7 linked regions of the Homo sapiens genome follow. The protein of the gene in region 5 interacts with the protein of the main gene of each other region in a pairwise test. Each region holds a gene or a part of one and is shown on either strand. Other genes may lie near its edges.

Evidence for each region.
Region 1: the proteins of SLC35F6 (region 5) and ALDH2 interact in a two-hybrid assay, tested with the Homo sapiens proteins (one large-scale study listed by BioGRID and IntAct).
Region 2: the proteins of SLC35F6 (region 5) and OAT interact in a two-hybrid assay, tested with the Homo sapiens proteins (one large-scale study listed by BioGRID and IntAct).
Region 3: the proteins of SLC35F6 (region 5) and SEPHS1 interact in a two-hybrid assay, tested with the Homo sapiens proteins (one large-scale study listed by BioGRID and IntAct).
Region 4: the proteins of SLC35F6 (region 5) and TBPL1 interact in a two-hybrid assay, tested with the Homo sapiens proteins (one large-scale study listed by IntAct).
Region 6: the proteins of SLC35F6 (region 5) and KIAA0232 interact in a two-hybrid assay, tested with the Homo sapiens proteins (one large-scale study listed by BioGRID and IntAct).
Region 7: the proteins of SLC35F6 (region 5) and MS4A7 interact in a two-hybrid assay, tested with the Homo sapiens proteins (one large-scale study listed by BioGRID and IntAct).

The regions. Positions count from the first base shown.
Region 1 is NC_000012.12:111,765,359-111,770,041, reverse strand, and holds the start of ALDH2 (aldehyde dehydrogenase, mitochondrial isoform 1 precursor), read right to left. Parts: upstream 3,110-4,683; 5' UTR 3,060-3,109; coding exon 2,946-3,059; intron 1-2,945. UniProt on the Homo sapiens protein: Required for clearance of cellular formaldehyde, a cytotoxic and carcinogenic metabolite that induces DNA damage.
Region 2 is NC_000010.11:124,408,561-124,412,574, forward strand, and holds part of OAT (ornithine aminotransferase, mitochondrial isoform 1 precursor), read right to left. Parts: intron 3,641-4,014; 5' UTR 3,612-3,640; coding exon 3,413-3,611; intron 406-3,412; coding exon 181-405; intron 78-180; coding exon 1-77. UniProt on the Homo sapiens protein: Catalyzes the reversible interconversion of L-ornithine and 2-oxoglutarate to L-glutamate semialdehyde and L-glutamate.
Region 3 is NC_000010.11:13,327,453-13,331,466, forward strand, and holds part of SEPHS1 (selenide, water dikinase 1), read right to left. Parts: intron 2,337-4,014; coding exon 2,246-2,336; intron 999-2,245; coding exon 899-998; intron 1-898. UniProt on the Homo sapiens protein: Synthesizes selenophosphate from selenide and ATP.
Region 4 is NC_000006.12:133,956,116-133,960,129, forward strand, and holds part of TBPL1 (TATA box-binding protein-like 1), read left to right. Parts: intron 1-4,014. UniProt on the Homo sapiens protein: Part of a specialized transcription system that mediates the transcription of most ribosomal proteins through the 5'-TCT-3' motif which is a core promoter element at these genes. Seems to also mediate the transcription of NF1. Does not bind the TATA box.
Region 5 is NC_000002.12:26,770,684-26,774,697, reverse strand, and holds part of SLC35F6 (solute carrier family 35 member F6 precursor), read right to left. Parts: intron 448-4,014; coding exon 375-447; intron 1-374. UniProt on the Homo sapiens protein: Involved in the maintenance of mitochondrial membrane potential in pancreatic ductal adenocarcinoma (PDAC) cells. Promotes pancreatic ductal adenocarcinoma (PDAC) cell growth. May play a role as a nucleotide-sugar transporter.
Region 6 is NC_000004.12:6,785,727-6,789,740, reverse strand, and holds part of KIAA0232 (uncharacterized protein KIAA0232), read right to left. Parts: intron 1-4,014.
Region 7 is NC_000011.10:60,381,075-60,385,088, reverse strand, and holds part of MS4A7 (membrane-spanning 4-domains subfamily A member 7), read right to left. Parts: intron 1,961-4,014; 5' UTR 1,948-1,960; coding exon 1,801-1,947; intron 2-1,800; coding exon 1-1. UniProt on the Homo sapiens protein: May be involved in signal transduction as a component of a multimeric receptor complex.

The sequences.
Region 1 (4,683 bases), on a different chromosome or scaffold from region 5:
CTCCCAAGTAGCTGGGATTACAGGTGCGCGCCACCATGCCCAGCTAATTTTTGTATTTTCAGTAGAGACAGGGTTTCACTATGTTGGCCAGGCTAGTCTCGAACTCCTGACCTCGTGATCCGCCTGCTTCAGTCTTGCAAAATGCTGGGATTACAGGTGTGAGCCACTGCACCCAGCCATTTTACCCCATTTTACAGATGAGGCAGCTGAGGTGCAGAGTCCACTGCTGTATGCACCATCCCTCTTCCCTGCTGAGTCAGCAATAAGGCCACACTGCAAACAGCCCAGGGGGCTCTAAGAGGTCCAGTTCCAGCACGGCGCCACCAGAGTAGAATGCTCTGTGGTCCTTGGAAAGGGTTAAATGAGATCTGAACGTACTCAGAATGATAACCCAGGTACATTGTTCAGTGAGACGGCGAGCTTCAGAATATAAGTGGTTGCATCTCATTTATGTTAAAAAAAAAAAAAAGTCTGGTGTGCTTGCATTCTCTCTCTCTCTCTCTTGCTGCAGGCACTTGTAAATGCAAACAAAATGTCTACAAGAGACACACCCACCTGTTCACAGTGCTCTTGGAGGGAGTAAAATGGGGTATCCAGAGAGGTTTATTTATTTATTTATTTTTTAAGAGATGGGTTCTTGCTCCATTGCCCAGGCTGGAGTGCAGTGGCACAATCATAGTTCACTGCAGCCTTACATCTAATCTCAAGCGATCTTCCCACCTTGGCATCCCAAAGTGCTGGAATTACAGGCATGAATCACCTTGACTGACCATGTCCAGAGAGTTGTAAGTCAGTCCTCTGCAATTTTATACAGTGGGCATGTGTTACTTTAATGATCTCAAAAAGTCTGATAAAGAAAAGCAGCCACAGGGAATTGACTCGGCTCCTCCAGCCTACACCCACAGAGTAAATCTGGAGAACAGGATGTGTTACCTATGGGCCTGGGTGCATATCTGGACCCAGCTGCCTCATCTGCATGTGATAAAGGATAAAGATTTTAATCAGATCCTGTGGCCAGAAGGGTTCCTAGGGCGATGGCTGTTCCTTGAGGACATTTCTGAGACAGGGTCTTGTTCTGTTGCTCAGACTAAGTGTAGTGGCCCAATCATAGCTCACTGCAGCCTCGAACTCCTAGGCTCAAGTGATCCTCCCACCTCGGCCTCCCATATAGCTGGGACTACAGGCATGTGCCACCGCACCTGACTAATTTACTTTTTTAGTAGAGACTAGACACAGGGTCTTGCTATGTTGCCCAGGCTGGTCTCGAAATCCTAGGCTCAAGGGATCATCCCACCTCAGCCTCCCATATAGCTGGGACTACAGGCATGTGCCACCGCACCTAACTAATTTACTTTTTTAGTAGAGACTAGAGACAGGGTCTTGCTATGTTGCCCAGGCTGGTCTCGAAATCCTAGGCTCAACGGATCATCCCACCTCGGCCTCCCAAAATGCTGGGATTTACAGGCATGAGCTACTGCACCTGGCCTCTGCTAGATCTTTTGATGCTCAAGTCTTCCAAGCATGAACTTGCACAGGCTGCCAAGGGAGCCATAGCTGCTGCCTTTTTAGCTTGTGTTATGCAAAAGATTTTATTTTATCCTTTTAAAAATTCCCTTGCAAATGACCTTTGTAACATCCCCTAAAATCACACGCATGTGCCTTTACCCATCACCTATATCCAGATTTGCAGCCACACTCAGGGCCAGACCAGCAGGTGTGCTGTTGAAAGCAGCTGGCTAGGAGCCAGCTCTACAGCATCCCAAATCAGCAATAGTCCCAGAGGATCGGTGGTCCCTTTGTTCCCACCCAGAGTCACAACATACCATGGAATGTTCTGGTTAGGGGCTTACTCCTGGAAGTTCAGCTGTGAACCCCAACTATGCCACTGACTTTGGTCTTTAGGTGAGTCACTAAACCTCTTTGTGACTCAGTCTCTTCATCTGTAAAATGGAGAATTACAGTCCCTTCCTACTGAGGCTGTTGTAAAAATTACCTTAAATTGCAAAACAGGTAGACGCTTAGAACAGTGCTGCACAAAGGCTGTGCAGACAGGACAGGAGCTGTGATTAACTATGAAGTGACTGGTTGATGAGGGCCTGTGTGAACCTAACCCTCAGAGCGCCTTTCCATTTATAGGAGAAAAAGCTTAAGTCAGAGAAGGCAGCCAACATGCACTGGCACAAACAAAACAAACTCTTTCATAACCAATTTCAGCCTCTGTGAAGTCTAGAACTTTAACCAAACTCAAAGATCAAAACAAAAAATATTCCAAAGTATTACTGATTGAGCAATCAATAAATGGACCACAGGAATCAGTTTTATCCTGGAAAGCTCCTCCTTGGTTTGGTCGAAGCCGGCGTTGGAAGCCGCAGACACCCCTTGGGGTCGGCCCCCTGGGGCCGAAGGTCCTCCAGGATTCCCTACTCCCAGCAATGGAAGCAGCCGAGCGTGGCCTCGCCCATGGTGAACTGGAGAACGTGGCTGCAAATCACCTCTTTCCTGGTTTTTCCTTTTGAACTCCTTGGATGAGGGCATGAGTCAGGGGGTAAAGGGGATGACTAAGGAAAAGACAGGAAAGTTCCTGCAAAGAGGGACTTGGTCGCGTCTTCTGAGTGGGTGAGGGTGGGGACCCTGCGGAGACCCGAAAGCAAGGACCATGGGGAGAACGGAACCCCGAGAGTTGGCCCTGGAAAACAGACCGAGGCTGGGCGAAGACGGAGAGGGGGCCCAAGTCACGGGGAAATGGGACGGGGACTGTCAGAGGCGGCGAAGGGGCTAAAATGCTTGCAGGAGAGGAGGGGGCAGATGTGCTTCCAGGTCAGCCTCTGCAAACCCCTCGAGCCCCAGATGAGTACACTAAGGCCCACGGCGGCGCGGGGCCTTCCTAGGGGCCTGCGGGGGACTCGGGCCGGAAAACAAAGCGCGAGCCCGGCCGGTGGGCTCACCTGGTTGCAGAAGACCTCGGGCTGCTGGTTGGGGGCAGGCACGGCCTGGGTGGCGGCGGCTGACAAGAGGCGGCGGCCCAGGCGGGGCCCGAAGCGGGCGGCAGCGCGCAACATCGCAGCGGGCTAGCGGACAGCGAGCGGACCGAGAGCAGAGCTAGGGTCTCAGGGCCACTGAGCCGACCCCGCTCCCCGCCCCGCGCGGCAGCCAATGGAAAGGCGGGGGCGGGCCGGGGGCGGGGCTGCCTCTACCATTCCTCGGGATGGGGCGCGCAGCTGATGCAAGCGAAGCGGGTGGCGCTAGGTACCCCCGGCCCGTGGCTGCCCCCTGGCTCGCGCGACGCCTCCGCGCCCGCCACCGCCCTCCGCCTGTGCGGAAAGACCCGGCCCCGCGAACGCAGCTCGCCTTGGTTGAGCCCCCAATGTGTGCCTTTGACCCCAATGTGAACAGGCCCGAGCCAGGGCGACCCTGACCTTCCCGGCTGATGCTCCAGGTGAAGAGACCGGCCGTAAACCCAAAAGCGAGATCATTTCGGAGGTGAAGGAGATGAACGAGGTGACATGGATGGGGCAGACGGCACTGCTTTTATAAGTACCATGGTCAGGAAATGACAAGTGAGACCTGAATGATGACAGGGAACAGCAAGGGCAAAGGCCAGGAGATGAGACCACCTGGCACGTGTTAGAGAAATGGAAAGAATGAATGGAGCCCAGTTAACAAGGAGAGAGGCGGCCAGGGCAAGGGCAGGGACGGTCTTGGAAGCAGCGGTTCAGAGTTTAGAACAGGATGATTTGCATGATTTGCTTATTCTTTTTTTTTTTTTTTTTTTTGAGACGGAGTCTCACTGTGTCGCCTAGGCTGGAGTGCAGTGGCACGATCTCGGCTCACTGCAAGCTCTGCCTCCCGGGTTCACACCAGTCTCCTGCCTCCGCCTCCGGAGTAGCTGGGACCACAGGCGCCTGCCACCACGCCCGGCTAATTTTTTGTATTTTCAGTAGAGACGGGGTTTCACCGTGTTAGCCAGGATGGTCTCGATCTCCTCACCTCATGATCCGCCTGCCTCGGCCTCCCAAAGTGCTGGGATTACAGGCGTGAGCCACCGCGCCCGGCGGTGGGACTCTGATTTCAACACCAGATTCCACCAAAGTCGCCCTGGGGGCTCAGCACCATTCCACACAAACCAGAGGAAGAAAAGGCATGGGGGTGGCCCATGGGAGGTTTCTGTGGGCTGAGCCTGCTCGCCTGGCTGGATTTCAATCACACAACCATGCCTCCATGCAAAAGAGTCTGGGAAATGAGTGGCCCCTGTGCCAGGAAGAAGGGAAATAGGTTTGGAGATCAGCTGCAGAGATAATCTGATAACCAAGACTCCCTTCCTTCTCTGAATTCAGCCATGCAGGCCCCACTTCCCCTTCCCAATGGCGCCTTGCTTTTTTTTTTTAGATGGGGTTTCACTCTTGTTGCCCAGGCTGGCACCATGTGGGCTCACTGCAACTTCCACCTCCCAGGTTCTAGCGATTCTCCTGTCTCAGCCTCCCAAGTGGCTGGGATTACAGGCGCATGCCACCACACTTGGTTAATTTTTGTATTTTTAGTAGAGATGGGGTTTCATCATATTGGTCAAGCTGGTCTCGAACTCCTGACCTTAGGTGATCCGCCCACCTCGGCCTCCCAAAGTTCTGGGATTACAGGCATGAGCCACCGTGCCAGGTACTTTTTTTCCCTTAATACTGTGTGTGG
Region 2 (4,014 bases), on a different chromosome or scaffold from region 5:
TTTGTATTTCTGAATGCCCTTCACGGTATAGCCCCACTTACGAGCTAGTTTACAGGCAGTCTCTCCAGCCTCCACTCCTATCAGGAGAGAAAAATGTTCAGATTTTTTTAAAATGTTAAACTATCAAAAAATAAAAAGATTATTTTTGAGGGTATTTAACAAAAAAAGGAAATGTTTTACCTGTATTCATAGGAAGAACTTTGTGGTAGTTGAAAAGTTTAGTAATATACTCCTCATATTCACCAAGTACGTTATTATAGAAAGCTCTAGATGTTAAGGTCAATTTGTCCACTTGACTCTTCAGAGCATTCACAATCTTGGGGTGACAATGCCCTTGGTTGACAGCACTGTAAGAACTCAGGAAGTCAAAATATTTTCTGCCTTCTACATCCCATAAGTAAATACCTAAAATACATAAGAAAGGAAAATAATTTTAGACAATTACTATACGGCATAAAGTCCAAAAATTAAGAGTGCTAGCAAGCCCTCTGAATGCCTATATATGAACCTCTATTTAATACATATTTGTAGTTAAAGCTTGTTTTAGCTCAGGCATAATAAACTTTGGTTTGTAAGGAATTACTAAGAATTGTATTTTATCTGCCCAGCTTCAAAACACACATTTAACAAAAATAACACAAAAAGGTTATAAACTCTGGAGTAAAACCTTTACCTAATTCTAAGATTTAGGATCCAAAATTAGAATTTAAAAGCAGAAGTTAGGCAGGGAGCCGTGGCTCACGCCTGTAATCCTAGCACTTTGGGAGACCAAGGCAGGGATTGCTTGAGCCCAGGAGTTCCAGATCAGCCTGGACAACACGGCAAAATCCCTGACGCTACAGAAAAATGCTGGGCATGGTAGTGCGCGCGTATGGTCCCGTTACAGAGGCTGAGGTGGGAGGATTGCTTGAGCCTGGGAGGTAGAGGATGCAGTGAGTTGAGATTGTGCCACTGCACTCCAGCCTGGGCACCAGAGCAAAATCCTGCCTATAAAAAAAAAAAATAAAATAAATAAAATTTAAAAATAAAAAAGCAGAAGTTACACATAACAGACAAAAATCATGAGAAGTAGACTGTAATAACCCTTAGGATGGAAAAAAAATATTTGTAAATCATGTGTCTGATAAGGATCTAATATCCAGAATTCTTACAACTCAATTTCAAAAGGACAAACAACCCAATTTAAAAAATGGGGAAAGACTTGAATAGCTATTTCTTCAAAGAAGATATACAAATGGCAAGAAACACATGAAAAGATGTTCAACATCACTAATCATTAGGAAAATGCAAGTTAAAACCACAATGAGATACCATCTCATACTCCCTGGGATGGTTATAATTAAAAAAACAACTTTTGACAAGGATCTGAAGAAATTGGCACTCTCATACATTGCTAGTGGGAAAGTAAAAACAAGGTTGCCATGTCATGTAATATGAAACAGATTTTCAATAGTTCAAAAGAAGATATGTCTACAGTACTGGTACCAAATAAAATACAAGCAAATGACCAAAATGTGTGATACTCTTATATTGTCATTTTCTGGTACAAAGCTAAGTAATAAACTTTGGTTTTATTTGGTTAAGGCTGTTATTTATTCCAAATTGTAGATTAAATCACCATTTGGCAACTACCACCGTAATCATTTATTCAGGCAAGAATCATTAGTGGATGCTGAAATTGTGAGTAAAAGTTCATGAGTAACTGGATATTTACAGAGTTTTACACTCTGTCCCCACAAGATACTTAATACAAAGGGAAAGAAGACCAAGACAACCAAGGATTGAGGAACTGTTCTGGGTTAAAGAAGACTAAACATGACAACTGAATGCAACTCATCGGAGGTTTTTCTTTTGTTATAAAAGAGAACAAATGACATCTGGATTAGGTCTCTAGACTAATGGTGCTGTACCAGTGTTAAGTTCTTGATTTTTACAATTACTCTATGGTTATAAAAGAGAAAGTCAGCTGGGCACAGTAGCTCACACCTGCAATCCCAGCACTGTGGGAGGCTGAGTGGTAGGATCACTTGAGACCAGGAGTTCAAGATCACCCTGGGCAACATAGCAAAATCTAATCTCTACAAAAAATAAGCCAGGCATGGTAAGGCACACCTGTAGTCCCAGCTACTTGGGAAGCTGAGGTGGGAAAATCACCTGAAGCCGGGAGTTCCAGGCTGCAGTGAGCCATGATCACACCACTGAACTCCAGCCTGGGCAACAGAATGAGACCCTATCTCAAAAAGTCATTGCGTTTTTGGAAAGACACACTAAGTATTTATGGGTAAAGAGATGTCATGTGGCGGGGCGCGGTGGCTCACGCCTGTAATCCAGCACTTTGGGAGGCTGAGGTGGGTGGATCACCTGAGGTCAGGAGTTCGAGACCAGCCCGGCCAACATGATGAAACCCTGTCTCTACTAAAAATACAAAAATTAGCTGGACGTGGTGGCGTGGGCCTGTAGTCCCAGCTCCTCGGGAGGCTGAGGCAAGAGAATCACTTGAAACCGAGAGGTAGAGGTTGCAGTGAGCCGAGATCCCACCATTGCACTCCAGCCTGGGTGACAAAGCGACATTCCGTCTCAAAAAAAAAAAAAAAAAAAAAAAAAGAAGAAGAGATGTCATGTCTGCAACTTCCTCTCAAAACAGTTCAGAAAACAATGTAGAATATGCAGGCGGCGGGGGGAGAAGAGAAGGGAGTGAACACACTAAGACCAAAGCAGCAAAAAGTTAGCACTTGGAAAATCTGGGAGAAGTATAAAAGGAAAATGTCAGTACTATTTGTTACAACTTTTCTTAAGTCTAAAACTATGCCAAAATAAAAGTTAAAAGAAAAAAATGACAGCAATATGATAGTACTTTCCTTATTTCTCTTGCATTCCCTCTTGGTAAGGTCTACATGACAAAGACAATGGTTCCTCTTTGAAGCCTCCATAGCACCTAACACAGCAGCACTAGACACTCAATAAATGAATTAACTGGCCAGGCGTGGTGGCTCACACCTGTAATCCCAGCACTTTGGGAGGCCAAGGTGGGAGGATCACAAAGTCAGGAGTCTGAGACCAGCCTGGCCAACATGGTGAAACCCCATCTCTACTAAAAATACAAAAATTAGCTGGGTGTGGTGGCGCACGCCTGTAGTCCCAGCTACTCAGGAGGCTGAGGCAGAAGAATCGCTTGAACCTGGGAGGCAGAGGTTGCAGTGAGCTGGGATTGTGCCACTGTACTCCAGCCTGGGTGACAGAGTGAGACTCCGTCTCAAAAAAAAAAAAAAAAAAAGAAGAAGAAGAATTAACCATGTCTGCAATATACACATTAAACACATCTAGAAAAATGTATATTGTGAAAATATGGAAGCAATTTTTTTTTATAAAAGGTTTCAAGAAAAGGGAAAAGACGGATTAATTTGAAACGTACCTTTTCCTCTCTCCAGGGCTACAGGTAAAGGATGGTAGTTGTGTGCACCATACTTATATTCCCTTTCAAAAATGTCATCAGAGGTTGGAGGGCCTTGGACTGTTTTTTTAGTTGCAACAGATGTAGCAGAAGCCACTGAAGAATGAACTCCGCGACTAAGTACAGCAAACCTCTGCAAATGTGCTAGTTTGGAAAACATTGTGTCCTTCAAGTAGAAAAACCACAGATCTGTCCAAAGAAAAGAGAATGCATTAAGAGTGAGAATCCTTGGCTTATGCCTATAATCTCAGCACTTTGGGAGGCTGAGGTCAAAGGATCACGTGAGCCCAGGAGTTTGAGACCAGCCTGGGCAACAGAGCAAGACTCCATCACTAAAAAAAATTGAAAAATTAGCTGGGTGTAGTGGTATGCATCTGCAGTCCCAGCTACTCAGGAGACTGAGGTGGGAGGATTGCTTGAGCCCGGAAGTTGAGGCTGCAGTGAGCTGAGATTGTGCCACTGTACTCCAACCTGGGAGACAAAGAAAGGCCCAGTCTCAAGAAAAAAAAAATGGCCAGGCGTGATAGCTCACATCTGTAATTCCAGCACCTTGGGAGGCCAAG
Region 3 (4,014 bases), on a different chromosome or scaffold from region 5:
GGAGCTGTTTTGGGTGGAGGGACTATGGACAACTTTTTTCTGTACTATTTTCCATTTTCTAAAAACTTTTCTATAATAAGCATGTAATTCTTTTATAGTAGAAAAAATGTATAAAATAAATGGGAAGAGAAGACATATTAAAAAACGCTTTCTAAACATAGTGTGCCATTGTAAACTGTGGTGAACACTTTGGAAGACAGTTTGGCACTATCTATAAAAGCTGAGCCAGTACTGATCTCTTACACGTGCCTCAGAGGGCTGGGCCAAGGAAGTCCATAGCAGTCGCCCCAGTGTGAAACAGGAGAGCAGAGAAGCCAGTGGAAAAATCAACACAGCCAAAAGGAATCTACTACAGCTACATATAACAAGGAGACTCTCAGGAACAATGGTGAACAAAACAAGTAAAAAAAATGCAAAACTAATTTGCTGCTTAAGAACACAAGGGCTGTGCAATAAAAATATTCTAAAATGCAAGAAAATAAACACAAAATTCAGTGGTTACACCTAAGCAGGAATGCAGGGGATGGGTGGGAGTGGGGGCACTTCTAGACTTCCAAGGTTATGTTCTGGAAATAGCTCCAGTATCTTAAACTTTCTAAATTTCCATTCTGAATGGTTTGCTTCCAAATCTTACATAGGTAACCCACACAAACGCTTTCTAGAAATAGTTCCTCTGGTATGTCAGAAGTTAGGACTTCCTTCTTAATTATAAAGCACTGTAAGTCAGGGACCATCTGCAGTGATCTATGGAATGCCAACCTGGTACCAGGAGAAGACGGTCTGTAGTCACTGGCCAAAAATCTGGCCACCTACCCTGAGACAGTATGTGGCCAGAAAAGCCTAAGACATTTACTGTCTTGGACCCCTGGGACCGAAGCGCCCTTCCCACCTGTCATACCTGTCCTGTTGAGCCTCGCCATGTTCATCATCGCCTCCTGGTAGGCCAGCTCTACATCTTCTTGGGTGACCACTAGTTTAATCTTATTCCATTTCTCAGGCTGATAATAGAAATGTAGGTGAGGGAGAGAAAGAGAGGAAAATGTGATTAATCTTTACTTCTAGCAACTGAGAAAAACAGCAACTTTTTCTTATTTAACTTCTAGGGACTTTAATTCAGAAAACTGAATTTTCCAACTCTGGTTTTTCTGTGGATAGTATTTTAGGTGTCCATTAGACCTGTCAGCATGGCGTCTTTTCTGTTCTCATCCCACATTTCTGTAATTAAGTGCTGTGATTTATTGGGTATGTGTAGTCTAGCGGGACACACGGCGGCACTGCTGTACATGCAGTGTAGTGTCCTGCTAGTGGAGAAGGGCTCCCCCATCCGTGACACTCCCTGCCTCACCTGCTTCCAGCTCCCTGCTAGCTCAGGCCTGGGAGGTGGGGCTGGAAGGCACCTCTGCGCAACATCCCCGCAGTGGCCTTCTGCTCTGCTCCCCATCACAGGGGGAGGAGGGAAAAACTGCTAAAGAACGTGGCAGCCTTAGAGAATTTCTCTACCCTGCGACATCAAGCTAAGATATACCAGGTTGATGAAAGACGTGTAATTATTGATTATTCTCTTTCAACTGTTTCTCAGGACTGGTAGTTTCAGATGATAGTTGTAGAAATTAAATGCACCATGATATGTGAGAATATACCCCAATCTTATTAATTTGTGAGTTGTTACGGCAATGAAGAAAACCAATCTTAAAGTATGATTATAGCTCACTGGAAAAATGACTCACAAGACATATCCTCATTATAGATAGATTCATTCTGCACAAGAGAATTATTTATCAAAATGTTCTGAGTTACTCATCAGTTTAAAAAGACAAAACTACCAAACAAAAACAACCAAAAACTGCATAAAACAATTTAAACTGTCAATAACCCTGGTTTTATTTATACCCCAAACACTACGCCTTCCACCAATTCTCCTTCATATTATTTCTTAGTGATGTTTAAGACATGAAAGACGAAGCTATCTCAGGGCCAAGTAAACAAAGCTAACCCCCTGCCGAGCAAATTCTTTACAGAAAAATCTTAAAGCTCCAAGCTGGGGCTTACCTACTGCAATCAAGCATTCAATATGCAAAACTGTTATTTAAAGACTATGAACAATTCCTAGGATTTCTTTAAGGACTTGACTAATATTAACTCCCTGGATATGAAACTAAAAAACCTCATTTCCCAAATCCTCCAACAAAAATTACCTGCAAACGTACCATTCCCCTCCCTCCCATCACAGCAGTGGTTTACTCACGATATCCAGCCACTGGTGCACAGCCACTGCCACCTGTGTCCCCAGGGGTTTTGTCAGCACCAGCACGTCCCCTGGCACTGCATTGTCTGGCCTGAAGAAAAGAAAAGGGCATGTTCTAGTCAAACTAACCAAGGAGATGAGCTCATTGTTATTAACACAAGAGAAGGAATAATCTGTCAAAAATATATCTGCCTTTGCATTTACTTAAATTGAAGCCAACTACCAGCATGTATGGGACAGAGCCTTGCAACCTGCTACTGAGGCTATTGCTGGAACAAAACATTCAGCCATCAGGCTGGACACAGTGGCTCATTTCTGTAACCCCAGCACTTTGAGAGGTCAAGAGGGGAGGATCACTTGAGCCCAGGAGTTCAGGACCAGCCTGGGCAACACAACAAGGACCCCATTTCAAAAATAATATACATATTTTTAAAAAGAATGAAACATTTAGCCTTCAAACGTTTCATCAGGCCCAGATTTCCCCTCGACCACATACGAGTGTATGTGTAATTTTCACTACAGACCCACTAGCATTCAAAAGCTTCTGAAACAGAGAGTGCTTCTTTATGATCACTGATATGCTAGAGACTCAGGACGGATTTTTCGGCCCAGGGGTTTGGTGGATTTGCAGGCAATCTGTGGGTCTAATGTCTTGGTGATTTCTGCCTCCAGGTTCTCAAACTCAGACTGACTGATGGTGAGTTTCCTACCTGGCACCCAGACGCCTTGGTGGTCCCTGTCTTAGAGACAGAAGGCAATACTAAAAAGGCACCTCTAAAAGATGACAACTGGTGCCCGAATGAAACATCTACCAGACTTGCATTCACACTACCAGGAAGCAGGTCTGAGAGTTGTGCCTTTCGCAGCTTCAGCAGCTGAGCTCCTGAATCGTTCCATTCCCCGATGCTGGCCTCCTCAGGTACTCACCCAAGTCGATGAAAACAAAGCCAGGGCCACAGACTTCAATACCAACACCCAGCTCCCCAGCTCAACCTATACCATTTGTATCCACTCTCAGCTTTGAAAAATAGAATTCTGTGACTACGCAAGAAACTTGTTTTCCAAAAACCAGACCTGAAGACATAAATGTCTTCGAATTCAGACTCAGTTGTACCATAAAGTTGATGTTCTTTTTTTTTAAATTTTTTAAAATTATACTTTAAGTTCTAGGGTACATGTACACAACATGCAGGTTTGATACATAGGTATACATGTGCCATGTTGGTTTGCTGTACCCATCAACCCGTCCTTTACATTAGGTATATCTCCTAATGCTATCCCTCCCCCAGCCCCCTACCCCCGACAGGCCCTGGTGTGTGATGTTACCCGCCCTGTGTCCAAGTGTTCTCATTGTTCAACTCCCACCTATGAGTGAGAACATGCGGCGTTTGGTTTTCTGTCCTTTTGATAGTTTGCTTAGAATGATGGTTTCCAGCTTCATCCATCTCCCTGCAAAGTACATGAACTCATCCTTTTTTACGGCTGCGTAGTATTCCACGGTGTGTATGTGCCACATTTTCTTAATCCAGTCTATCATTGATGGACATTTGAGTTGGTTCCAAGTCTTAGCTATTGTGAATAGTGCTGCAATAAACATATGTGTGCATGCGTCTTTACAGCAGCATGATTTATAATCCTTTGGGTATATACCCAGTAATGGGATTGCTGGGTCAAATGGTATTTCTAATTCTAGATCTTTTTTTTTTGAAACTGAGTTTCACTCTGTCACCCAGGCTGGAGTACAGTGGCACGATCTTGGCTCACTGCAA
Region 4 (4,014 bases), on a different chromosome or scaffold from region 5:
TTGATTTCCTTCTGTTTCATCATAGACCATGTGATGAAATTATTGCTATAAAATATGAACGTTGCAGTTGATTTTTAGAAGAATTTATAGTAGAATGTTTCCACATTGTCTCTGAGTTAAAATCTCTGGTGTTTTCAAATTTTAGCTGTATTGTGACATTCGAACTAATAAAGATTCCCTGAAACTTAAATCCATTTTGTTGTGCCTTCTGTATGTCTGGTGCCGTGTCAGGTGTGCAAAGCTGGATGAGAGAGGTATTTCCCTTCAGGTGCTTTTTGTGCACTTGTAGGTAGCAGAGAAATGACATGTGTGTAATAAAACATGACAGACACAAATATGAATTTTAAATTCTTTATTACATACTGCCTGGTACTGTCACTATTGGTGAATGGACTTCATCATGCCTGCTAAACTAGAAGTTTCTTGAGGATCAGGAGTATGAGTAGCCATCATCATATTGTATGTCCCTGCCCTGTGTGTGTATTTTGAAGATTACGTTGTTAATAGAAGGAGATACATGTTTGTTTATTTCACTTCAAGAGCTTAGCTAGTGGATGAAGGAAACCTTTTTGAAATCTGATTCTTGATGCCTAAAATTTCAACTTTGTATTCTGGCTGTGGGCATGCAAATTACAAGCAGTGACACTTTCTCAAGCATGATTACAGCTTCTAACCAATTCAAACAATAAAGATAATGGTGGACTGCCTTCACTTGAGTAGACACGATATTTGCTCTTGTCACATGACTACCACTTTGGGAAATTTCAAAAGGATGAGAGACTGTATACGTATCTGAGGTTTTTCCAGGCTACATAGACAAATTTGATTTTTGTATTATTAACCAGTCAATCTTTTCTTTAGAAGACAGATGGAGTTTGTGTATTTGTGTAGTTGTGAAAAAGCAAGATTCTGGAAGTATGTCTTTAGTGGAAAGGAATCAGGTCACATCAGAAATTCTACTTGTCTGTGACTAAAGGGTGATAAAATAGAGAATTTGGTTTAAATGGCTGGTTTTGTGGGTTGAAGCATGCTATGGATCCCATTAAATGTTTTTAAAAAAAAACTCAATAGGGTGATTTCTGGGGTAGTGGAGATGTGCCTTTGTGTGGGAGTCAATAATGAAAATGTTTAAAATTTCACCAAAAAGTACAGCACAGAAGTTTGGCTGTTGGTTACTTTCACCATCCATTAATAAAAAATACTGAAAACCAGACGGTGTGTTAAGGACAGAGTTTTCTTAGGACATATGTGGATGATTTCAGCATTGAATTGTGCTTAGCACAAGATAGACATCTGTGTGTAGACATTGGCCCATGGTATGTTTTTGTTTTTTAACTCACTAGGTGAGAACTTAAGTCTTACTTAAAAGCAGTAAAAAAATTTGTTTCCATTAATAAAATGGTTCCAAAGAATCAGGTGTTAACGTTCCCGCTCCTGATAAATTACAAGTATTTTCACTGTGAGACAGAAGAGTTTTGATCAGAATCAGTTACGTTTTCTTGAGATTGGGATTGGTACAACACTTAAAGAGTACGGACTCTGGATGCAGGCAGCCTGTGTTCAGCATCATGGCTGTGCTTTTAATTAATGGCATGGCCTTAAATATTAAATAGCTTTCTCACTGCCCTGAGCCCCAGTTTCCTCATCTGTACTAGGGAGTTAATACTACTACTACGTTACAGGGTTGCTGTGAGAATTAGCATAAAGCACTTAGAACTTTAGTTAAAAGCTTTAAAAAGTATTAGCAGGTGCTAGTAGCAGTGGCACTGGATATTATTTTAAAGGTGAACTGTTGGACCACTTGGATGCTTTGTTTCTTTGGTTGGGAGGCTTTCTACTAGAGCATTGAAATTCTTTCTTTCTTTCTGTTCACTGACTATTGGACTCATCTCTGCTGTTAGGCTTTAGGAGGGGGAAGTACTTTTTTTAAGTTTTGAATTGTCACACAGGCATCTGGTTATCACTGATGGCAGATGGACTAAGTAAAGAGAGACATCTCTGTTTCTTGGAAAAGGAAGGCCGACAAAGCCTGGGCTGGCACCATGTTGCAGCTATTGAAATACTATTTCCCTGTGGACTTGACTTGTTTAGCTGTATGATACTTCTGAATAAAAGGAATAAACCCCAATGGTTTCATTTAACAGAATTAGGCTTTCGTTAGAAGGCACTATTTTTTACTTGTATAACCTTAGTTGATGGTAAACTTGAAGCTTGTTAGTATCAGTGTAAAGCCATGTGTTGTGAGCTTTCTGTGCCACTATGAATGTTCTAATAGTAGCTTTTTTTTGTAATTTTAGAAGTAGCTAAAATTGCTGCTCTGCCCCAGTAATTCAGGTGGCTCAAGAATGACTTCGTAGGATAGCAAAATTATTTGTTTATGGTAAAGCTAAAAACAAATACTGAAGCTACCTAATCAGGAAAATAATTTGATAATTATAGTTTTGTTTAGGCTGCTGCTGAAATAATAGCTAACTTTAAAAAGTTAAGTCCAAATGTTTTAGTTTAGTTGTGTGGACATTGGAAACTGCTGACTAAAAATAAATGTTTCTGCCTAAACAAAGTGAATTGCAGACTGTTCTTTCCTATTCTGGCTAATAACCAGGTCTTAGTTTTTAGTTGAAATCCATTTTTATAAAATATATACTATAGAGGTTTATATAAAATATATTATTAAAAGCATATTTTGCTTTAAATGTGCAGGGTAAAGTGTTATAATTCCTTCTTCCATGTTGTGCTGGTTTTGTTTATTTGTTTCAGCTGGTTTTTATAAGCTTCCACACACTAAGGAGGTTGGCAAATATGCTTGTATTTAGAGGTGTGACTTTTGTTTTCCTGTTTAAGAGAGGAAATGATCATGACTGTTGCACCAAATAGATAGAGATATATATTTCCTTTAGTTTTAGATACCCTGAGGACTGTGCTGGGAAATTTTTTTTTTGTTTGAGACAGAGTCTCACTCTGTCACCCAGACTGGAGTGCGGTGGTGGCATCTCAGCTCATTGCAACTTCGGCTTCCCAGGTTCAAGTGATTCTTGTGCCTCAGACACCCAAGTAGTTGGGATTACAGGCATGCGCCACCACGCCTAGCTAATTTTTATATTTTTAGTAGATGCAGGGTTTCCCCATGTTGGCCAGGCTAGCCTCGAACTTCTGACCTCAAGTGATCTGCCTGTCTCAGCCTCCCGGAGTGCTGGGATTATGGGCAATGGGCACGAGCCACCATGCCTGGCCTGTGTTAGGAAATTTTTAGGAAAACAGGTTGCCATGGTATCAGTACTATAGTCCACAATAAAACTTGCCTGTTTTGAGACAAAGTTCTGTCTAACACATTGTTAATTTTTCTCTAGTGTTCTTTCTTTCTTTCTTTCTTTTTGTTTTGTTTTGGAGATGGAGTCTCACTCTGTCGCCCAGGCTGGAGTGCAGTGGCGCGATCTCGGCTCACTGCAACCTCCATCTTCTGGGTTCAAGCAATTCTCCTGCCTCAGCCTCCCGAGTAACTGGGATTACAGGCACCCACCACCACACCTGGCCATTTTTTTGTATTTTTAGTAGAGATGGGGTTTTACCACATTGACCAGGCTGGTCTTGAACTTCTGACCTCAGGTGGTCCCTCTGCCTCAGCCTCCCAAAGTGTTGGAATTACAGGCGTGAGCCATTGCACCTGGCCACCTAGTGTTCTTTCTATCACACTCTTTTTCAGGGACAGATGTTGCTGTCTTTCAGATATGAACATAATAAAGTCAATGTGTAACCCAAAAGTGCAAATATGAAGATGGAGATTTGATTTATGACTGTGGACAACATTTATAGGGCCTGTTACTGTTTGAAACTCAGTTAATGAACTTGAAGCTTTTGTGGAACAAGAACCACCCCATCCTTTTTAATTTGTCAGATGCTTCTGGTGAGCCGCAAGCGTTTTTCCTCTCACCTACTTATGGCTGCAGTGTGTTCCTTGGGCATTTCCAGTGACTTGTGTACATGTACAACCTAGGAAAGTTGTAATGAGCATACCTT
Region 5 (4,014 bases):
ATTTGAGTCTCCTGATTCTCAGTTCAACGAACAGTGTCTTCCATTTATGGTGTCTGCCCTGTCCCAATTGGGGTCTGGGCTCCCAGTGGATAGAGAGCTGACTTTTGTCACTAGGGCTGATGTTTTCCACGTGTCCTGACTTGGATGTGGTGAGGACATGACCACTTGCCAGGACTTTCGCAGAGGATGGTGCTCTTTGCCCTATTCTAAACCTTGGATTCTGCTCTGGGGAGGGAAAGAGAGAAGTGGATGGCTCTTCTGGGAGCAGGAGACACCTCCACTCCTAAGTCAGGAAACAGCCTGGCCTCATGGCCGGGGGTGGCGCCTGGTCTGAGGCCCGGGAGACAGGAGGTAGGAGGGACAGGGCCAGATACCTGGAGGAAGGGATGCTGGAAGCTGTGCTCCTTGCTCCCTCCACAGCCCTCGGCCATGAAATTGTCCGCCCATCTGTAGGAGAGAGAGGGAAGGTCAGACCCTGTCAGCATCCTACCCTGGTGCTAGTGAAGAGGCTCACACCTCTCAATGTCAAGAGGCCCAGACCTGGGTGACCCGGCCCCAGAGTGGGGCTCCCTCTCAAAGGGGTCAGTCTTCACCTCAAGGAGTTTTAACTTGGCATTTCCTCAAGTCACTGTGTCTGTGCCTCTGTAATGCACAGAAATCACAGATACTCTCATGATCACATTACAGTCATTGTATATATCGTGAGGTATCATTTACACTCATCACTCATGAACATTACAGTAGTCAGACCCACTTATAACAATGTAGTAGAAAGCATTTCTATATAGCTGGGCGCAGTGGCTCACGCCTGTAATCCCGACACTTTGGGAGGCTGAGGTGGGTGGATCACTTGACGTCTGGAGTTCGAGACCGCCTGGCCAACATGGTGAAACCCCGTCTCTACTAAAAATACAAAAATTAGCCGGGCGTGGTGGTACAAGCCTGTAATCCCAGCTACTCAGGAGGCTGAGGCATGAGACTCACTTGAACCTGGGGGACAGAGGCTGCAGTGAGCCGATATTGCACCACTGCACTCCAGCCTAGGTGATGGAGCAAGATCCTGTCTCAGAAAAAAAAAAAAAAAGCATATCTATATATATTCTATATCACGAATTTGCTTTTTTAAGTGTTTGATAACTGTATTTCAATTTAATTGACTTCTTTTGTAATCCTTGGTCTTTTTTTTTTTTTTTTCTTAATGGAGTCTCGCTCTGTCGCCCAGGCTGGAGTGCAGTGGCAAGATCTCGGCTCACTGCAAGCTCCGTCTCCCGGGTTCACGCCATTCTCCTGCCTCAGCCTCCTGAGCAGCTGGGACTACAGGCGCCCGACACCACGCCTGGCTAATTTTTTTTTGTATTTTTAGTAGAGACGGTGTTTCACCGTGTTAGCCAGGATGGTCTCAATCTCCTGACCTTGTGAACCACCCTCCTCAGCCTCCCAACGTGCTGGAATTACAGGCGTGAGCCACCGTGCCTGGCCCAATCCTTGGTCTTATTTACACGTTTTAAAACATTACTGTAAGAAGAGGTCCATAGGCTGTGCCAGACTGTCAAAGAGTCCCATGGCATGAAAAATATCAAGAACCTCTGGTCTACAGGAGTATTTGGGTCCTGGGAAATGACTTAATACAGACCACCTGCTCACCTTCAAAAAGCCTGAATGGTTTGGAAGATCTTTCTAATGCTGACTTTCAAGCAGGTGGCAAAGACATCACACTCATGGCATGACCTCCCAGTCAGCACCCGGCAGATGGTGATGACTGATTATGACATACTTCCCCGATGAGCCTAGACACAAGCCCAGAATCCTTTGTGGCATAGTGCTTTGGGCAGCTTAACCACCAATCACTCTGAACTGTCTGCCATCTGTGCATGAAAATTCTCTGTCTTGAATTTCGTCTTTGCTGGGCTTGGTTAGGTCTGTGGAATCTTGTCTAATCTTTCATTTGAAAGCCCTTTAGGTACCTGGGGACTTGTTGACCTTCTTCTGAATCTTCTCATCTCCTGGCTAAACAGCTCCAGCCTCTCCTAACCTTTCACCCCTGGCCACTGACTTCTGGAAGTACTCTGGTGTACCCAGGCCCAGAGCCAAGAGCATGTGATCTGGCCCAGACTGAGGCTAGCAAGGCGTGGCCCTCCCTCATGTTGACACCCTGGGTTCGTTGACACAGCTCCAAATGCATCAGTAACATCATGTGCTGACTGAAGTCAACACAGTCCCAGAGCCGTTTCCTGTGGGCCACCGACCTGCTCCCACTGCAGCATATCCTGCATAGGCAGTGGATGTCTTTAAAGTGCAAGACTCGGGACTTCTTTTTATTAAATGCCTTTCCTTGAAATGTCTTTCCAGGGCAGTCAGATTGCAGTGCACAGCCCTGCACTGCCATTGGCTCATCTCTGTAGCGAGCCTCAGCTCCCAAAGGGCGGGGGAGTCCTCTGGTTCCTGTACCTCCCCCGCAGCACCCAGAGCATGTGCCACTGGTTGTGCCGCAGTTAGGGTCTAGGTTTGACAAAGTCCCTGTCCAGCTTTGGCTTCTCTATATGCCTCTGAGTTTGCGGAAGAAAACAGGGCTATGGCAAACCTATTCCATAGTGAGAGACCCCACCAGCTCCTGGAGATGTGGAGAAAGAGGGGTAGTTAAGATTCCTTGTGGTTCTTGGGAATGGCAGGGGCAAAGGAGAGTTGAAGGGAGAAGTTCGGACAGAACTGTTTAGAAGGCAGAGAGAAACCTGGAGCCTGGCATGGCTTGGGGACCAGGCTGTAACCAGTACCAGTGGGGCAAAGAAAGCGCCTGCTATGGAACAGGGAGTCTGGGAGCTGGGGAAGCCTCCACCCCAGGTCAGGAAACACCTGACCTCATGGGCTGGAGTCTCACTTCTTTCTCTTTTTTTTTTTAGAGAGAGGGTCTCACTATGTTGCCATGGCTGGTCTTGAACTCCTGGGCTCAAGCAATCCTCCCGCCTCAGCCTCCTGAGTTGCTGAGATTATAGGCATGAGCCACTGCACCCATGGTGCCTAATTTCTGCCTGATATGCTGTTGGCTCTTGGATCCCTGGCCAGGACAGGACATGGAACATGGGTAAGGGCCACAGACCCAGCAGGGCTGCTCTCGAACCCAGTCTTGCTTTTGCAGAAAGAGCCCCCTGAGAAGGCCTGCATGAGGCAACTGAGTGAAACAGAGGCAAAGCAAGGAAGAGAGAAGAGGTCAAGCCTTACCAAGGGCACAGAGCCAACTGCCCAGAGCAAGTGAAGTCAGAGAGATGGGAATCCCCAGGCCAGGAGCCAAGTTTCCTCTAGGAGGGACAAGGGAGCTATTGCCAGGCCATGAAGGTTGATCAGAAGCTTCAGGCAAGGATTATTATTTATTTTATTATTATTTTTGTCTGTAGGGGGCAGGTATGGAAGCTGAGGCCACATTTCCATGAGTCCTACTTCCCACCTGAGTCTGAGGGCCCCCTGCTGGTAGAACAAGTTGGTCCATAGGGGAAACCCCTCGGGGCCTGTCCTTCCCCAAGGCTGGGGCGCTTCTTGGGGAGCTGACTGTAGGGCTGGTGCTGAGCTCCCCACCTCCCACAGGGGTTGTCTTCGCTTTCTCCACGGGTAGGTCTGCCTAGACAGGCCTGGCTGGCAGCGCTCCCGGCTGGGGAAATGGTATCTCTTTGTATCTGAGGGCCTGGGGCAGGCTGACAGCCCAAGGGATTGGGTGTCAGCAGCATGGGCTGCCTTGCCCAGCCTGAGATGCTCAGGCCTGCAGGTACCTTGGGGCAGAAAGCCAGGCTTCTCATCCTGGATTGGAGACAGGTTTCGACTCCTGGCGCAGAATCAGAAAAGACCCCAGCCTCACAGGCTAGAACAAAAATCCAGCCCCAGTTTGCCTGGGGATGACAGCAGTGACCCCTAAGGTGGGCAGCACTTTGCTGTCAGTTCTTCACAACGTTTGTTGTTTGTTGTCTTTTGTTTTTGTTCTTGTTTTTTTTTTTGAAACGGAGCCTCCCTCTGTCACCCAGGCTGGAG
Region 6 (4,014 bases), on a different chromosome or scaffold from region 5:
CCAGACTTTCTTAAGCCATATGCAAAAAACCTGCTCATCTACAGACAGGTTTGCCTGTCTTCAGAATAATTTAGGACCACCATCATGAATCTGTTTATGCAAAAGCCCTCTCCAACTCAGTCACAAAATTAATGAAAGAACGTAGATGCAAGTTGAAAATGAGATGACTGGCCAGGCACGGTGGCTCACACCTGTAATCCCAGCACTTTGGGAGGCCGAGGCAGGAAGATCATGAGGTCAGGAGTTCAAGACCAACCTGGCCAACATGGTGAAACCCCGTCTCTATTAAAAAATAAAAAATTAGCCGGGCATGGTGGCACGCACCTGTAATCCCAGCTACTGGGGAGTCTGAGGCAGGAGAATCACTTGAACCCACGAGACAGAGGTTGCAGTAAGCCAAGATCACGCCACTATACTCCAACCTGGGTGACAGAGTAAAACTCAGTCTCGGGAAAAAAAAAAAAAGAAAAGGCCGGGCATGGTGGCTCAGTCCTGTAATCCCAGCACTTTGGGAGGCCAAAGCGGGCAGACCACGAGGTCAGGAGATAAAAACCATCCTGGCTAACACGGTGAAACCCAGTCTCTACTAAAAATACAAAAAATTAGCCGGGCGTTGTGGTCGGGCGCCTGTAGTCCCAGCTACTCGGGAAGCTGAGGCAGGAGAATGGCGTGAACCCAGGAGGTGGAGTTGGCAGTGAGCCGAGATCGCGCCACTGCACTCGAGCCTGGGCGACAGAGCGAGATTCTGTCTCAAAATAAAAATAAAAAAAAAAGAAAGAAAATGAGATTTTTTTCTTTACACACACACCAGAAATAAATATGTGAACACTGTCATAATAAACTAGCATATACAATTAACCAGTGTATCCAACCACTAGTGTCGTCTCCACCTATTCAAATTAATAGCTAAAAGCTGCCACTTACTGAGCACTTACTATATGCTGGGCCCTGTTCTGAGTGTGTCACGTGGATTCACTAAGTTCTCATACAAAGTTATTCCAACTCTATCCTCCTCCTCCTGAAATCAGAGACTGTAAATTTTGAGTTAATTCAGTCAAACATTTAACAAATGAGTACTATGTAAAAGACTATATTGCACACTAGAGGAAATCAGAAATGATTAAGATTTTCCTCTACATCTCTCAAGGAGTTTATAATCCAGGAAAGACCTTCATGTATATAAACTAAAAAGTCATAAGGAAAAAATAGATAAGTAGAGGTATCAGGCTAGCACTGTGTGGGAGAAAAATAATGAGTTAATTCTGAAAATCAGGTTACAGAAATAGAAGTAGCAGCATTTAAGCCAAGACTCCAAGACTCAGAAAGAGAGAGAAAGGTGGAAAGGATATTTCAGAGTAGTCTGCCAATAACGGAAGTGGCCAGAGGTCTTGTGTTGAAATATAAGGTGACAAGAAGAGATGCAGGCTGGGCGTGGTGGCTCGTGCTTATAATCTCGGCACTTTCGGAGGCCAAGGCGGGCAGATTACTTGAGCCCAGGAGTTTGAAGCCAGTCTAGGCAACAGAGCAAAACCCCATCTCTACAAAAAATTAGCCAGGCGTTATGTGCCTGTAGTCCCAGCTACTCAGGAGGCCAAGGCAGCAGGAGGAAGGGAGGTGGAAGTTGCAGTGAGCCAAGATGGCACCGCTGCACTCCAGCATGAGTGACAGAGTAAGACCCTGTCTCAAAAACACAAAAACGAAAAAGAAGAGATCCAATAAAAGATTAAGCTAAAAGTAAGAATGAGGCTAGATAGCAAAGATCTTACAGTGATTTCCTAACTCTTTAACATTAATTCTCAACCAGGGGAGGAGTGTGGTAGCACTTCCAAGGTAAAAATCTTGGGAGGAGAAAGCCCATAACCTTACCAACAAAACTGTCGTATCCCTCAGGTGTGATGGAATAGAGGGAAATGTTGAGAACCTCTGGTGTATACTTGGGAAATGGGTCATGATATGATTTGATTTGCCTATTAAATAATTCTGGCAACAGAACAGAGGAGGAGAGACCAGAAAAAAGAGAGGCCAGTTGGAGGACTACAGTAACTATCTTCATAAGGAGTAAGAGCTTCAGGGAGGGTAGGGGCAGAGGAAACATGAAAGAGTAAAGAAAAAGACTGATGGAAAAGACTCATGGAGGCAAACCTGGTAAAAATCTGGTCAAGAAAGGAAGTCTCTAAAGGTTTCCAGGCTGGGTAACAAGTAGGACAAAAATGCTATAAAGCAAAACATCTGATTACCTTGTATCTGTGTAAGGATGTGCAGTACACAAAGCATAGCCTCTTTAAATGTACTACAAAGCAACAGGAATAACCGTTCTCAGTTCCCAAATAAAGACTGACTGACTTCCAAAGGGATTTAACAAACTTGTTCACGGCCAAGAAGCAAACCTGAGTCTTTCAAATCCAGTTCTAATATTCTTTTAAGAAGCCCCCTCAAACGCAATTGCTTTTGATGCATATAATAAATTTCTAAAAAAGAAAACTTTTAAAGAAAAAGCATGTAATCTCTTGGGAATTAAATTATACTTCAAATATAAGGATTTTTTTTTTTTTTTTTTTTTTTTGAGAGAGCCTTGCTCTGTCGCCAGGCTGGAGTCCAGTGGTGTGATCTTGGTTCACTGCAACCTCCACCTCCCGGGTTCAAGAGATTCTACTGCCTCAGCCTCCCAAGTAGCTGGGACTATAGGCGTGCTCCACCATGCCCGGATAATTTTTGTATTTTTAGTAGAGATGGGGTTTCACCATGTTGGCCAGGATGGTCTCACTCTCTTGACCTCATGATCCGCCCGCCTCGGCCTCCCAAGGTGCTGGAATTACAGGCGTGAGCCACCGCGCCCGGCCAATACAAGGAATATTTTTAACCTTGTGCTCTGGTTCCCTCTGCCCAAAAAATGGGTCGGTGATTCACAGTCAGCAATGCAGGCACTTCATCTATTTCATTAGACCCTACAAGTTTAGATACAAATGGGAAAGATGACAGTTTTTACTTTGTATAAAATACCACTTATGTGATTATGTGAAAGACCAAAAATAACTGTAAAGAAATATTCTAAATAGTAACTATATTCAACATAGTAAAACTACATTTCTAATGTTGTTGTGGGCACCGATGTTTATTAAAAATACTTCATCTGGGTCTTGTGCGGTGGCTCATGCTTGTAATCCCAGCACTTTGGGAGGTTGAGGTGGGAGGATTGCTTGAGCCCAGGAGTTCGAGATCAGCCTGGGCAACACAGGGAGACCCGTTTCTACAAAAAAACAAATTGTTTTAATTAGCTGAGCATGGTGGTGCATGCCCGTGGTCCCAGCTACTCAGGAGGCTGAGGTGGGAGGATCACTTGAGCCTGGGAGGTTGAGGCTACAGTGAGCCACGATCACACCACCGCACTCCAAGCCTGGGTGACAAAGCAAGATGCTGTCTCAAAAACAAACAAACTTTATTTGCAGACTTAAGCCAGGGTCAGAAAAAATAAAAATAAATATACTTTATAATATTAACATACTCTTTAAGGTTGATTACAGACTTTGACTTTATTTAGCAAACATTTAAACACTTACATTTAACATTAAGCACTTATGTTTAAACGCCTGAGCAAGGTGTTGGGGGCAAAATGATAGGATAGACACCACAGCCAGAGTTTACTATGACCAATTTATAATACAACATGATATAGACAATAATGAAGGAAAAATAGAGAACTATGATTGAGGAAAGGAATAATTCATTGTAATAGGACTTCCAAAGGACTCCAGAGAGAACAGAATATTTGATATGAACTTTTAAGAACTGGAGGGAGTGGGAGTGAGACAGGACATTCCAATAAGAGAAAAGAATATAAGCAAAGAAGGTCTGAAATAGCTTGGCATGTTCAGAGAACCAAGAGCAGTCTTGTTTAGCTGGACAGTGTGGAAAGGGGACAAAGAGGACAAGATAAAGTACAGAGATGACTGGGGGCCAGACTGCAAGGGGCCTGCATTGTGATGCTGGTATCTCTGAATTCTAAGCTCCAAACCA
Region 7 (4,014 bases), on a different chromosome or scaffold from region 5:
TCTACAAGAGAGAAGACAGGAAATCTAGACTGCACTTCAAACAGATAAAAGTGATTATTTGAATGCACACGGTAAAGTATAAAGAGTATAAAATACATTATAATTTGTTATATTAAAGAGGAAAAATGTTACAAGGAGCCAATCGATATGCTTCTAGAGAAAGTCATGTATAGCTAACCTCTTCTTTTCTGATAGGATTATTAAACCAGCAAATCGGAAAGTGATCATACACACATTTTAACTTTTTTTGAAAAAGATACTTGACAGTTTTTAAATTTATTTTCTTGAAAAGTAGATAAAAAAGTTGTCCAGTGAGGTGGAAATAGAGAGCAAACTTTTCACAGGAGTGTTAATGAAGAGATTTTTCAGTTGAAATTAGATAGAGCAGGTCATCTCTTCTGCTGTAATTCATCTTATTTTGTTCATCATTGGATTTTAATAATAATTATTTCGCAAGTGGAAGAACTGAAGTTTAGCTGTTAGCTTGCTCTAAAGCCCATGCTTTTGCTCATAGTTTAATGCATGTGCAATTGAAAGATGATGCAAACATAGGAGAAATAAAAAAAGAAGTCAACCATTCACATCATCAACAGTTATTGAATACCACAACAGGTATGTTGTGTGCCAGGCACGAGGGAATGAAGCAAATGAAAATCACTACCATTGGAGAGCTTATATGTGTACTATGTCTTGTCTGTAAAGGTACAGACAAGTTCCATGCAAGGCAGAATAGAGTTAAGAGCAAAGTAGTAGGACATGAGGCTTGTGAAGTACTGGAGGCATGGTACAAACTATGTAGGGATTTTTAGGCTATGTTTTACCAACTTTGCTTTTCATTTTGAGCAAAAAAGGAATCCCACTGGATAATTTTGAGCCAGGAGAATACATGATCTAACTTTCATTTTTAAAAGAGTACCCTACCTGCTGTACTAAGAATAGATTGTAAAGAAACAGGGCAGGGAGATCCATCTAAATAGGCAGTGAATAGGACCTGGGTATTATAAGAGGGTATTCAAAACCACATGGAGATTAAAGTTCTGGATATGAGGGATGATGATCTGGGACACTTGGATGTCTTATAGTTACTCATATGAACGGGGAAAAATGGGTCATGAGATTAGTCTTGATCGTCTCATCTCAAAATATTTGAAAAATAAGCTCAAAGTTAATTTAATCATATTGAGTAAAATCCATATGGTTAAATAGAAAATTTTTACTGTACTAATGACAAAATAAGAAAGACTAATTTGTGGCTGGGCACAGTGGCTCATGCCTGTAATCCCAGCACTTTGGGAGGCCAAGGCGGGCAGATCACAAGGTCAGGAGTTCAAGACCAGCCTGGCCAGTATGGTGAAACCCCATCTCTACTAAGAATACAAAAATTAGCCGGGCGTGGTGGCGTGCACCCATAGTCCCAGCTACTCGGGAGGCTGAGGCAGAAGAATCACTTGAACCCAGGAGGCGGAGGTTGCAGTGAGCTGAGATCGTGCCACTGCACTCCATGCTGGGTGACAGAGGGAGATTCTGTCTCAAAATAAATAAATATATAAATAAATAAAATAAGAAAGACTAACCTGTTAATTGTGAAGCATGCTAGTGAAAAAGATCTAGTGGTTTTAGTTTCTAGAAACTGCTGCAGAGCTTTAAGAGTCTTCCCTTAAAGCTCCATTTCATGTCCTCATTAGCCTGGAGTCAGCCAGAAAAGAGTGAAAGAGTTTCCCAGACCCACTGTAGATCTGTAGTCTAGATACATTTACAAAGTATTTTCTCAGTATTCCCCTTATAATGAGGTGGACTTACCCCAAGAACGGTGGTTTCTGTTGGCAGCCCGTTCTGCAGGTAATCTTCGTTTTGGTACATGTGTCCAGGTTTCTCTCTTTGAGGGATAGTGATGCCCTTTGGTGTAAAGCTGTGAGAAACCCCCATGGTTTGGGATTGTAATAGCATGATGCTGATGATGCTGGAAGAGGCATCAAAACTCAGTTACTTCCCAAGGTTTGACTTACAGACATAAACTTCCCAGGGACCATACTTTGTAGGAACTTAAGAAGGTATTTGCCATTATTCCAAGGCTGGTTGTCCTTCAGAAACAAAACATGGGGATCAGTGGAGCATTGGAAAGTGGGCATGCTGGGCACAGTTCATCCATTGTGGTCAAGAAGCATGTCACTGGGAGAGTACTGTACACATTTTGAGGGGTCCCACAATTGAGAGGTGAGCAAATCACATAGAACTTGCTTTGTAGCCCTGAATGTGTCCATCTCCCTCTCCCTCCAGTGACCTCTGCTTCCAGCTTCCCTTCCCTATCTCCTGTATCTCTGCTTCACTTGTGCTACCTTCTCACACCACATCTTCCAGGATTACACTTTTATGCTACACCTGCACTGATCAGTCTTCTACTCCAGTCTTCATTTTGTCTTCGTAAAAATGTTGAGGATGAATGCTGTTCCACTTTCCTTTCCTATAGCGAGATGGCCTGTCCCATCCGGAATCTTCCTCCTTGCTTATATTGGCTTCGTAATTAGTAATGTAAACATTTACTTAACTCCTGCTGAATTCCAAGCATTAGACCATTGCAGCTCTAATCCTTATAACAACCCTGTAACTTACATGTTATTAAATCAATTTTATACATTAGAAACCTGGGGCTAATAAGCTCAAGTGACTTTTATTGAATGAAATAGTCACATAAAGTACTTAGCCTGGCACTTAGAATGTGTTCAATATATGGTAGCAAATATTAACAGCCTGTGTTTACATGACTGGATTGAGACTTGTCTGGCTCAGACGCTTGTGATATTTTTTTCTCTATGCCATGTTAATTCTCCTCCTCTTCCTCTTCCTTCCTTTCTTCCTTCCTAACATTTCCAGTTCCCTTGTAGATTCCAGGAGCAAGTTGTCTGCCACCACTAACTCAGCAGCATTGCTGGGCCTCTGTGGTGTCAGCAACAAGGCTCAGCACCTGAAATGTTGCCCAGATTTGTTTTCAGCTCAACATTCTCCCTACTGAAGGCCAGAGTTTAGTTAAAGGCTTGTCATCCTTGAAAGGTGCCACAGCTCTGCTGCCTGACATTTTGCCTCAATGTGTTGGTGCTTTAGGAATGGTTCTGGCCTCTCTTGGGTGGAGTGAAGAACATGTAAAAATTGGAAATGACACCTAGAATCTCTTCCTAGTGAGGGAGATGGAAAAGTGCACTGGGATGGGAGTCCAATGCCTAGGCATCTAGTTGCACATCTGACCATATGTCTTGGAGTCCAGTCGTGTGTTCAGATCCCATATCCACCAGTTACTGCTAAACTCACCCTGGGCAAGGTATTTTCACCACTTCATAGGTTTGTGGTACAGGTTGGATAAGATGACACATATAATGGACTCAGCATAGGGGGAGGCATGTGATAAACTCCCAAAACATATCAGTTTTATCTAATATTCATTGGAAGCCCAGTTCTGATATTGATGAGCTGGCCGTAGGCAGGATACTTTCCCTCATTCATCCCCAGTTTCCTTATCTGTAAAATAAGGATAATGACACTATCCTGAAGGACTCTTGTGAGGATTTGAATGACACACGTGAGTGTCTTTTGTTGTAACTCTCTGAGTTTTATCAGGTGTTCCATAATAGTCGATCCATGTTTGGACCTCCATTTTATTTCTACTCCTAGATCTGTGCCTTAGTCTAGTTTCTCATGCTCTCCGGGCATGAGATACTTTATCTGAAGAATTATTAAACCTAAAGTTCTCTTTGTTTAAGGAGATAGTTTTCATTTCTTGGAATTTTGAAATCTGGGTAGAAGTGTGGGTGAGGTTACATGTCCTATGAGGGGAATAATGTTGAAGCTGAATCCCTGCAGTGGAGTCAGGGTGAGCCTTCCAGCACATCTTTAAAGCCAGAGAAGGAGAAAAAGTGTCAGGCTTAGAGAAATTCTAGGTTCCAGAATCAAACAGTAGTTCATGATAAAATGATAATCATTGCTAACATTGATTGGGCACGTACTATGAATGTGGCATTCTAT